Regions from separate parts of the Homo sapiens genome. Here region 2 is linked to region 1. The links come from fine-mapping of genetic effects on gene expression. A gene starts in region 1. The other region holds a variant in brackets. All regions are shown on one strand. Distances are between the middles of the regions.

What was found. PIP is the estimated chance that this variant, and not a neighbour inherited with it, causes the effect.
Region 2: its variant is fine-mapped to the expression of RASGEF1A in blood mononuclear cells (TOPMed, PIP above 0.99).

The regions. Positions count from the first base shown.
Region 1 is chr10:43,264,677-43,270,046 of GRCh38, forward strand. RASGEF1A (RasGEF domain family member 1A) reads right to left here and starts at 2,389. Exons shown (of 13, transcript NM_145313.4): 1 at 2,169-2,389. RefSeq lists an enhancer at 1,019-1,894.
Region 2 is chr10:43,218,907-43,224,276 of GRCh38, forward strand. The region is part of intron 1 of RASGEF1A (RasGEF domain family member 1A); the gene reads right to left. Among named protein-coding and RNA genes, the nearest start is that of RASGEF1A, 45 kb to the right of the region's middle. The variant T/G (reference allele first, on the strand shown) is at 2,353.

The DNA of each region.
Region 1 (5,370 bases):
GCAGGGAGGGGTGGGGGAGAATGCCTTGAGTCTCCTCCCCATCTGCTATCTGCTATGCCCCTGGCACCTACCCCCAGCAGCCCAGCGCCCCTCCCCTGGGGTGGGCCATGCAGAGAAGAGCATCCCTCCACCAGCCCCTCTCCTGAGGACAGTGGGGGGGCCAAACCCCCTGCCCCCATCCCTGCCTTGGCACAGCACCTTCACTTGACCTATTTGACAAATAGGGCTTCTGTGAAACCCACGGTTCTATTGCCAAAAACCAAAGGCCAACCAAAGCTGTCCCATCCTGCCCCTGGCATCATTCTACAGGTGGGGACCGGCGTGCTCAGGGGCTCCTGGCCACACTGTGTCCCAGTGCCCACTCGCTCTCCTCCCTGGCTGGCCCCTCCCACCGCTGGGGGCCACTGTGTGCGTGGCTCTCCCCACCGCAGCCACTGTCCAGCACAAATGCCATTTCTCCCTCCTCCTCCTCCTCCCCTGCCTGCAGTTGCTAAGTTACACCAAAAAACCCCTCTGCTCTGTGTGAACTGTTCCATTTCCACGATTTGCCAGGTGGAAGGGAGCCATCCGGCTGGCAGCTCGAAGATGCCTCCCAGAGAAAAACAAACTCACTGGCTGGCCTTCAGGCCAAGGCACACCTGGGATACCTGCTTGGTTCACAAACCCAGGGGCATGTGCAGGAGGACACAGCTTCTCTACTTCACTAGAGAGCCTGGGGGATCCACACAGCTCATGCCCTTCTCAGGAGCAGGGAGTGTGGGCCTGCTGCACCCGCCTCGCTGGGTCACTACCACCCACAGCCCTAAGGACACACACTGGCTGGAGGGGCAGAGAACCCACCCACGTGTCCCTGGCCATCCAGCCAAGGTCCTCCATGTCCCCCTGCTCCGGATCTCCCCTTCCTGGGCTGGGGTCCTGAGGTTCCAAAGCAAAGTGTCACTGGACATCAGGGTGGAAATGTCCTCAGAGGTCATCAAAACCGTGTCAGTCTACAGATGGGGAAACTGAGTCTCAGAAGCCTGCAGCCTGCCCGTGGTTCACGAATCAAGACCTGTAGCCTTTCGGCTGGAGGCCCCCTAGAGCCGCTTAGAGTCCAGGGCACCGAGGTGGACAGGCTGGGCTGGCAAGACTGCATCCGGAGGGGGCGGGAGAACCCTGGGGGGACAGAGGGAACCAAGGCCTCTGGGAGGCTCCCCTGCACCCAGCCTGACTCCTGTGTTTCAGGATCCTGCGGCCGACGGCCATCGGGGCCCTTCCTGCGCAGGACAGTGGGAGAAGAGTGGCAGTGGTGGGGAGGGTGAACCAGGGAGAAGCTCACTGCTCTGAGCAGGGAGGGAGGGAGCCCCGGCCACCACCAGGTCTCTGCCCCCAGGTGGCTCCCAAGAGGCAGGCAGCGGCCTCTCTGTAAATATCCACCAGGTCCAGCACCCAGAGGCAGCCAGAAATGCAGGGCACAGGAACCTGCCAGCGCGTCCCTCCACACACAGCAGGGGACTCCCGCCCCCACCTCTCACTCACCGACCCTCGGACCAGAACCAGCTGCACCTGCCCCGTTCCTGGGGCCGGCAAGGCCTGGGGCAAAGAGAGCGTGGTCCTTCAAATGACCCTTGCCCAGCAGGGAGAGGGAGACACCTGGCATGGCCCTGGACCTCTCCCCCAAATGCAGAGCTCAAGCCCCAATTCCTCGCCAAACAGCAAGGGCGTGAGATACCACGGCGGGGCCCAGAATGCAGAAGAGCAAATGGAAACTTCCAACTGCGCAGCCCTGAGCTCCTCCGATTCCCCAGCCCCCACCCCCACGCCAGGCCCCGGGCAGCGAACCTGCCCGCAGTGCCCACGCCCGCCCGCCGCGTGCGCTCCTGCCACGCCCGGCCCGGCCCGGCCCGGCCCGCCAGGTGCCCTGAAGGGGCGGAGGGTGCAGGGGGTCCTGGCGCCGTCCAGCCCGGGGCGGAGTTCTCAGCAACTCCGCGCGCCGGGATCCCGGCCGCCCTCCCCGCGCGCGTCCCCCGCCCCGCGCCCGGAGCCCGCGCCCCGGCCCCACGACGGCCGCGCCGGGAGGGACCCCGGGCCCGCGCACGCCGCGCCCTGCCCGCGCCGGCGACCGGAGGGCACGGCCCCAGGCGCGGGCGGGGGCCCCGAGGCACTGAGGGTCCGCGGCCGCTGCCTACCTCGGTCCGGGCCAGCGTCGCTCCCGCGCCGCCCTCGCGCCGCAGTCGGGCCCCGAGCAGCGCGCGGCCGGCGCCGGCGGCGGCTCATGCTCGGCGCCCGGGCCCGCGGCACCCGCCCACCCGCGGCCGCCCCCGCGCTGCGCCAGCTGCGGGCAGAGCAGCTCCCTCCGCAGCCGGCGCCGGGGAGCGCGAGCGAGCGAGCGAACGAGCGAGCGCGGAGCGAGCGCCGAGCGGGCACGGAGCGGGCGCGAGAGCGCGGGGAGCGGGGGAGCGGGCGGGCGCGGGACGCGGAGGGAGGAGGGTGCGGGGCAAAGGTGCAGGGGGAGGTAGGGCGCGGGACGGGGCTCGAGCAGAGGGCACTGGGACAGGGCGGGCGCCGGGAGAGGGCGGCCAGGCTTTCATTTAAAAAGGATAAGGCATCACGCCTGTAATCCCAGCACTTTGGGAGGCCGAGACGGGCGGATCACGAGGTCAGGAGATCGAGACCATCCCGGCTAACACGGTGAAACCCCATCTCTACTAAAAATACAAAAAAAAAAATTAGCCGGGCGTGGTGGCGGGCGCCTGTAGTCCCAGCTACTCGGGAGGCTGAGGGAGGAGAATGGTGTAAACTCGGGAGGTGGAGCTTGCAGTGAGCCGAGATCGCGCCACTGCACTCCAGCCTGGGTAACAGAGTGAGACTCCGTCTCAAAAAAAAAAAAAAAAAAAAAAAAAAAAGGATCAGGCAGCAGACAAGCTAGGAGGCGATGCGGCCACCGCATTTAAAAGGCCCTCTGGGGACTCCCGCAGAGCTGGCAAAATTTTTGTCAGTGGAATCAGACGGTGAAAGCCCTTCTGTGGGCAAGTCCTGGCCCCTTGGGTCACTCCCCTTAACCATCTTAATCGCCCTGTAAGGTCGGTGGTGGATTTGTTCCCATTGGACAGGTTAGTAAACTGATGCACAGGGAGTGCGGTTACCCTGCAGGGTCTCAGAGCCTATAAGTGGCAGAGCAAGGCTCCAAAGCCACCTTGAAAGATTTCAGAACCACTAAAGCAGGACACAGGTCTTCTGGCGTCCACTGGAACTTCCTGTCGCTCTGAAGGGTCACCTTCTCTTGAACGGACACCCTGTGGCCTGACCCCAGGGTGGCCCAGAGTGACTCTTGCAGGCAGTCAGACGAGGGCCAGTGAGAAACAGGTCTGGGGCGACGATGTCCCCAGGTGGAGGGGTCTGTGTGAAAAAATGGGGAGGAGCCCCACAGCACCCCTTGAAGAGGCTGAGGACCTTGCTTACTCACTTAGTCCTTGTGTCTTGAACACCTGTATGCCAGGTGTAAGATGGGGCACTGGGATTCGGCTGTGAATGTCTCTGTCTGGTTGGAGTTTGCATTCTTGTGGGAAGTAGGCAGTGAATAAAAATACACATAAATAGTTCATGTGTCAGATGCTGCAGATCCCACAGAGAGGCCCAGCAGGGAGAGGGAGCCAGCGAAGGGAGGGGGAGGGGAGCTTGTAGGGTGGGGGATTCTTTTTTATTTTTTAAGGGGAGGTGTCACTGTGTGGCCCAGGCTGGAGTGCAGTGGCTATTCACAGGTGCAATCACTATGCTCTACAGCCTGGAACTTCCTGACTCTAGTGAGCCTCCTGCCTCAGCCTCCTGAGTAGCTAGAACTGTAGTTTCTCACCACCACCCTTCCCTGCTGGGTTGGGGATTTTATTTTGGGTGATCAGGGAAATCTTGGCTGAAAGGATCATATCTGAGCTAAGACCTAACTGAGGCAAGCTATGCTGAATCCGAGGAATGAACATTTTCAGCAAAGAGAACAGTACATGCAAAGGCCCTGAGGTGGAGGATGCCTTAGAAGGAGGCCAAGTGGAGATGAGTGAGTGTGGTAGAGAGGAGCCTGCAGGAGCTGCCAGGTGGACCATATCGCGAAGAGCCTGGCCAGCCATCAGCCCTCTGTGGCTTTGACTCAGAGGGAGGTGGAGGGTTTTGCACAAAGTAATATGATCTTACTATTTTTTACAAACAATATTTTATTATGTAAGATTTTAAACGCTTATAATAGTAACGGCTAAAAAGGTATATACAATAAACTCAATGGCCCAACTTCAACAATTATCAATACATGGCCAATTCTGTTTCATCTGTATGCCCACCTACCACTCCCCATATTATTTATTTGTTTACTCATTTTAAGTAAACTTTTATAGCTTTTTTTTTTTTTTGAGACAGGGTCTCATTCTGTCCCCCAGGCTAGAGTGCAGTGGCACAATCATAGCTCATTGTAGCCTCGAACTCCTGGGCTCAAGCAATCCTCCCGCCTCAGCCTCCCAAGGATAATTTTTTGTAAGTATAACATGCATAGACAAAAATCATAAAGTTGTGCTCCATGAATTTTCAATAAGAATACACCCATTCAGTGAGAATATTAATAGCTCTCTGCACCTGGATTTTCACTGTAGAAAGGTTTTTAATGACAGGTTCATTTTCTTTAATATATAGGACCATGTAGATTATTTGCTTCTTCCTATGTAACTTTTGCAAATTGTGTTTTTTATGGATTTTGCCCATTTTCTCTAAATTTTCAGATTTTCTGACATCCTCATATTGTTGTTTATAACATCTTTTATATTATCCCGCAGATGTTTGTAGAATCTGTAGCTATGTCCCACTTGGATTCTGATATTGGGGACCTCTGTGTTTTTCACTCTCTTTTTTTGATCAGTCTTGTTAGGGTTTTGTCAGTTTTATAATTTTTTTTAAAGAAACAACTTTTGACTTTGTTCAGCTTTCTCTGTTGTACTTTCTATTTCATGAATCTCTGCTCTTAGTTTCATTGTGTTTGTAGCTCTCCTTTGGGGGAGTATTAACTGTCTTTCTCTCATTCCTTCCTTCTTCCTTTTTAGTTTCTGAAGTTGGAGGGTAGGTTCATTGGTTTTCAGCTTTCGTTCCTACTCTATGGACTTAAAGCTATATATCTGCTTGTTAAGCACTGCTTTACTCTCTCTCTCACAATTGGTGTTTTTTTCTCACTATCATTTTGCTCAAGAGACTTTTAAATTTCCATTTTGACTTCTCTTTTGGCCCATGACTTATTTGGAAGGACATTGCTTAGTTCCAAATATTAGGGGATTTTCTAGCTACCCTCCTGCTGCTGAGTTCCAATTTAATCACACATCAGGCAGAGATTTTCTGAAATCTGTTGATACATTCTTTATG
Region 2 (5,370 bases), 46 kb before region 1:
TGACTGAAGGAATCTGGTCGTCTCCTCTTCACGCTCCTCAGATTCTGCCCAGTCTGGGTTTCTGCCTCTCCCTTTTCCCTTTCTGTCCAGTCAGCTTCTTCTGGGCCTGCTCAGGGCATAGAACATCATTGTCCACCAAGAACCATTCCATTCTTGAGACTCAAGAGGCCCAAGGATGCAGCAGGTGGGACTTCAGAGAATCCCTGCCCTTTCCCGGCAGGCGCTGGCAGCCTGGCCTCCCACTCCAGCCGCCTGGGGAGCCCTGCTCCCCCCTCCCCTTGGCCTCGCTCCCTCTTCGGCCAACGCCATCAGATTCTGCAGGGGTAACGAGAGCCTCCTGTAGATGGGTGGGCAGCCCTGTGCCTCCCAGGGACAGAGCTGGGCACAGGCTTGGATGGGGTCATGTGCAAACTCACGCAACCTTGGTAGCCAGTTCTGTCCTTTCCAGGGAGACCCCTAGGGTGCCACGGAGGAGGGGGCTGGGAAGCAGTGTGCAGATTCCACCCCAAGTGAAATCACCCCTCTGGGGTCCCTGTCCTAGATGGGTTGTCCACTGATGATGACAGGACAGAGCAGGGTGTCCTGCTGCTCATCAGTTCTGGGCAGTGGCCAGGGCGCCTGCTGGCTCCAGTAGGAAGGCACCAGCAATCTGTCCTGCCCAGGCCCACCCGGGCACACTGCCCACATCCAGCCAGCCCTGGAGTCAGCCCCGAAGCAGCAGCCCATGACCAAGAGAGAGGGACAGTGAGCGGGCAGGGTCAGGGCTGAGGGCCTCCAGAGGCAGGAAGGGATGGCCAGCCGCGTAGGCCACACACAGACCTGTCCCGGGTGAGCTGCACCTCCGCCCTCTACAGCCACCTAGGGTGCTGGGATATGGAATAAAAGACATATGGTTCTTTTACTTTTAAATGATAACTAATTACGCTGAGCAAAGATTTTTCCTTTGTGTTCCAAAACAAATAAAAATCCATTTCCCTCACTTGAATTGTCCTCCTGGCAGATGGCTGTGGGAGCAGGGAGCTCTCTCTGGGCCAGTCATGGGGGTAGGGGAAGGGGGCACCCAGCCCCCTGCTGGGTCACAGAGCCATGGGCATGCTCAGTCTGGCAGCCTCTGGGAAACAGCACCCAGACACACGTCCTGACTGCCACCCCCATGCCGTGGACACAGGCAGCTCTTCTGTCACATGCTGTGCGTCTGTCCCCTGGCCCTGGGGGCTGGTAACCGGTGGTTAGACACTGACCAGCCCCAAGAGTACCAGTGCACAGGAATGTGTAATAATGTGTTGTGGTCCTTAGGGTCTCAAAATAAACGGCCAGGCACAATGGCTCACACCTGTAATCCTGGCACTTTAGGAAGCCGAGGTGGAGGATCGCTTGAGCCCAGGAGTTCAAGACCAGCCTGGGCAACATAGGGAGATCCCTGTCTCTACAGAAAAATTAGCCAGGGGCAGTGGCATACACCTGTAATCCCAGCTACTCAGGAGGCTGAGGTAGGGGGATTGCTTGAGCCCAGGAGGTAAAGGATGCAGTGTGCCAAGATCATACCACTGCATCCCTGGGTGACAGAGCCTGGGCAACAGAGCAAGACCCTATCTCACCGGGTGTGGTGGCTCACTCCTGTAATCTCAACACGATGGGAGGCCAAGGCAGGCAGATCACTTGAGGTCAGGAGTTCAAGACCAGCCCGACCAACATGGTGAAACCCCATCTCTATTAAAAGTACAAAAAATTAGCCAGGCACGGTGGTGCACACCTGTAATCTCAGCTACTCCAGAGGCTGAGGCATGAGAATTGCTTGAACCTGGGAGGTGGACGTTGCAGTGAGCTGAGATCACGCCACTGCACTCCAGCCTGTGTGACAGAACAAGACTCTGTCTTAAAAAAAAAAAAGGGGGGGGAGTACTTATGACAAGTAACTCAGCTTAGAGTGAAGTTGCTGAGCCCTCAGAGTGATTAGCATAGGTGTGGTGGACTGCAATGATCAGATGATATCTGCTGTGGCCAGGCATCCCTGAGACCCAACAAGAAAGTGATGTCAAAAGGCACCTGAAGATGATGGCCAGGGACACTCCTGCGGAGGGCCATAAATACAAAGAAGCTGCTCATGACCAAGACACCTGCAGAAGCACTGCCCTCGAGAACTCCGAAGCCTCTTTTCCATTGGAGGCCACCAGACGCCCTGCTGGGAGAAGAGGAGTGATCCCATCCCTCCACCCGGGGGTCTGCGGTCCCTCTGCTCTGAAGGAACTTGGACCCTGGGCAATCAGCAGCTGGTCTCCCCATCCCCCGACACTGTGGTTCGCTCCCGCCTCTCTTATGACTGCCTGGGTGTGTGGAATATATTTGCATGAT[T/G]GTTGGGGTGTGAAAACGTCCCAATAAACCATGAATTTGTAAGCATTTAATTGGCTGCTGAGTCATCCTGAAACCTCCCCACATCAGTTAGTGCCACCAGGCTGATTCGAACCTAAGCCAGACACAGCCGTCTCCATGCCTCCCCAGGGTGGCCCTCCTGCTGCTCCCCCCTTCTCCAGATGAAGGAACAGAGGCCCAAAGGGCCTCAGTCACCAGCGCCAGTCTGGGAAACTGGTGGAGCTGGGATTGGAACCCTGTCTGATGTGCTACCCAGGGCAACCAGCACAGGGCTCCGGAGAAGGAGAATGGTGTGAGGTGACAGCAGGGGGAGCCAGCCAGGCCTGTGGGATGGACAGGGCCTGACCCAGGAGGAGCTGCCCCTGCTGCATTTGCAGGTTAGGCTGCAAGCGCAGGGCAGCGAGGTGGGGTGGGGGAAATCAGGCCAGGGTCCAAGGGGCCCGTGCTGCATTCTAGCCCCTGCAAAACTGCCCACAAGCCTCACCACCAATGAGTGGCGTAGGCAGAGGGCCTCCCACCTGCTGGGCCCTGTGACACCATCTGGGGGCCTCTGAGGCCCTGCTCTCCACTTCCCAGATGAGATACAGGTGTGGGGCTGAGGACAGGGCACAGCTGGAAGCCGCCCAGGCCTCCTGCCTGCAAGTTGGCCCTTCCTGTCCGTGTGGCCCGGGCACATACAGTCATGCGTCCATTCGCGACGGGGATACCTCCTGAGAAATGCATCTTAGGCGATTTCGTCGTTGTGCAAACCCCAGAGTGACTTACACAGACCAGGATGGCACAGCCCACTACACACCCAGGCTCCGTGGTACAGCCTATTGCTCCCGGGATCCCAACCTGCACAGTGTGTGACTGCACTGAATATACTGGAGGCAACTGTAACACAACGGTAAGGATTTCTACAGCTAAACATAGAAAAAGCACAGTGACAATATCATATTATGAATCTCAGGGGACCACTATGTGGTGCATGACGCTGTCTTTTTTCCCAGCACACCCTCCTAACACTCTCAGAATCTCCAAAGTGGTAAGTGTCTTCTGTGTGCTGATGGACTTCTGGACAGCCTGGCTGGGGGCTGGTTGTCAGGGGAACCAACCATGTGATGAAAGGGTGGGGACTTTCACTCCCACCCCCAGCTCTAGGGACAAGAGAGAGGCTGAAGGTTGGGTCCATCACCAATGGCCAATGATTCAGTCAGTCACACCCACATAATGAAGCCTCCACAAAATCCCAAAAGGAGCGGCTTCAGAGCTTCTGCGTAGGCAAGCAGGTGGAGGGCCCTGGAGTGCAGTGCCTGGGAGGACAGGGAAGCTCCACGCCCCTTCTCACATGCCTTGCCCTGAGCATCCCTTCCTCTTACTGTTCATCTGTGACCACTGTAAAAACCTGCATAGTAAGTGGGTAAATGGAAGCAAGTGCTTCCCTGAATTATGTGAGCTGCTCTAGCAAATTAATTGAATCTGAGAAAGGAGTCCCAGGAGTGGTGATTTGCTGGGTGGGTCAGAAGCACAGGCCACAACCTGAGACTTGCAAATGGCATCTGAAGTCGAGGGAGGGGGACAGCCTTGTGGGACCAAGCTCTCAACCTGTGAGATCTGACTTCGCCTCCAATATTGTCCAAATTGAATTACAGGGCACCCAGCTGCTGTCTTAATGTTAGAGAATCTGGTATTAGAATGTTGTGCTAAATGGCTGAGAGTGGAGAGTAAGAAAAACACTTTATTGGTTTTTTTTTTATAACCCTATTAGAGGTAAACTCCCAAGAACACAAAGCTATGCCCAGGAAACACAGTGAGCACCTCTTCATGCTAGATTCACAACCAGAAATTGCCCAGCAAGTGGTAGATGCCCAAGGGATGAAAATATTGCAGTGCATGCTCTCTGGACAGGGGACCAAGATATGTGAAAAACTGTGTCTAGAAACAGAAAGGCACATTCTACTGTCCAGAGTCTCTGCCACATGGTCGTATGTTATACCACCAATGAAACCCAGTAAAGTCCCCAAATAGAAGTGTGCAGGTGAGAGAATGACATAAGCACAATGTACTATAGTTGGATATTAATATATAACTGATAAACAAAATACCCACTTCATAAAAAAAATCCCTAAATCACACCTGTGTTAAAGATTCAAATTCCAATTACAGATGTCAGAAAAATAACCTTTATAGGAAAACTCTGTATCGAATTTGATATGGCCAAAGCTGTACTCACAGAAAAGTTCATAGACTTCAATAATGTATTGAAGTAAACACTAAGCACTTGATTCAAAAAGCTTAAAAAAGAGCTTCTCAACAAAACAGTGAAACAAACTGGAAGAAGAAACTACTAAAAAGCAAATTAGATGACTTAATCAAAGAATAGAGTAGAACTCCTTATAAACTTCAAGAGCTGATTCTTTGAAAACACAGATTTCAAGGATAACCCTCTTGCAATTCTAATCAACAAAAGGAAAGAAGAAAGGGAGGGAGGGCCAGGCACCCTGGATCATGCCTGTAATCCCAGCACTTTGGGGGGCTCTAGTGAGAACCTGTCTCTATTTCTTTAAAAAAATTATAAAAATTTATTTTAAAAAAGAAAGGGAGGGAGAGAAGAAGGAAGAAAGGAAGGACATGAAAAATACATTGGGCATGAAAAAAGGGAATCTAACTCCAGATATGTAGAAGAAAGTTTAAAACAAACAACTACCTAAATCTGTGGTAAATGATCTGCAAGAACTTTTAATGGTTACTTATATTATCTAGAAAATATAAGTAACCAAAAATAGAGTAAAACTGTTTAGAACCCAAAAAGACCAATAACCATAGTACAAATTAAGTTGAGAGCCAACTAAGCCTCTGGAAAAAATAAAAGAAAGCCCTGGCTGAAATAGTTTCTAAAATGAATTATTTCAAGCCTTTGAGGATAAGATAATTTTATATGATATATAAACTATTTCAACTACACAATTCATATTGAAAAGCCTTCCTATTCATTTTATAAAGCTAAAATAGCATGAT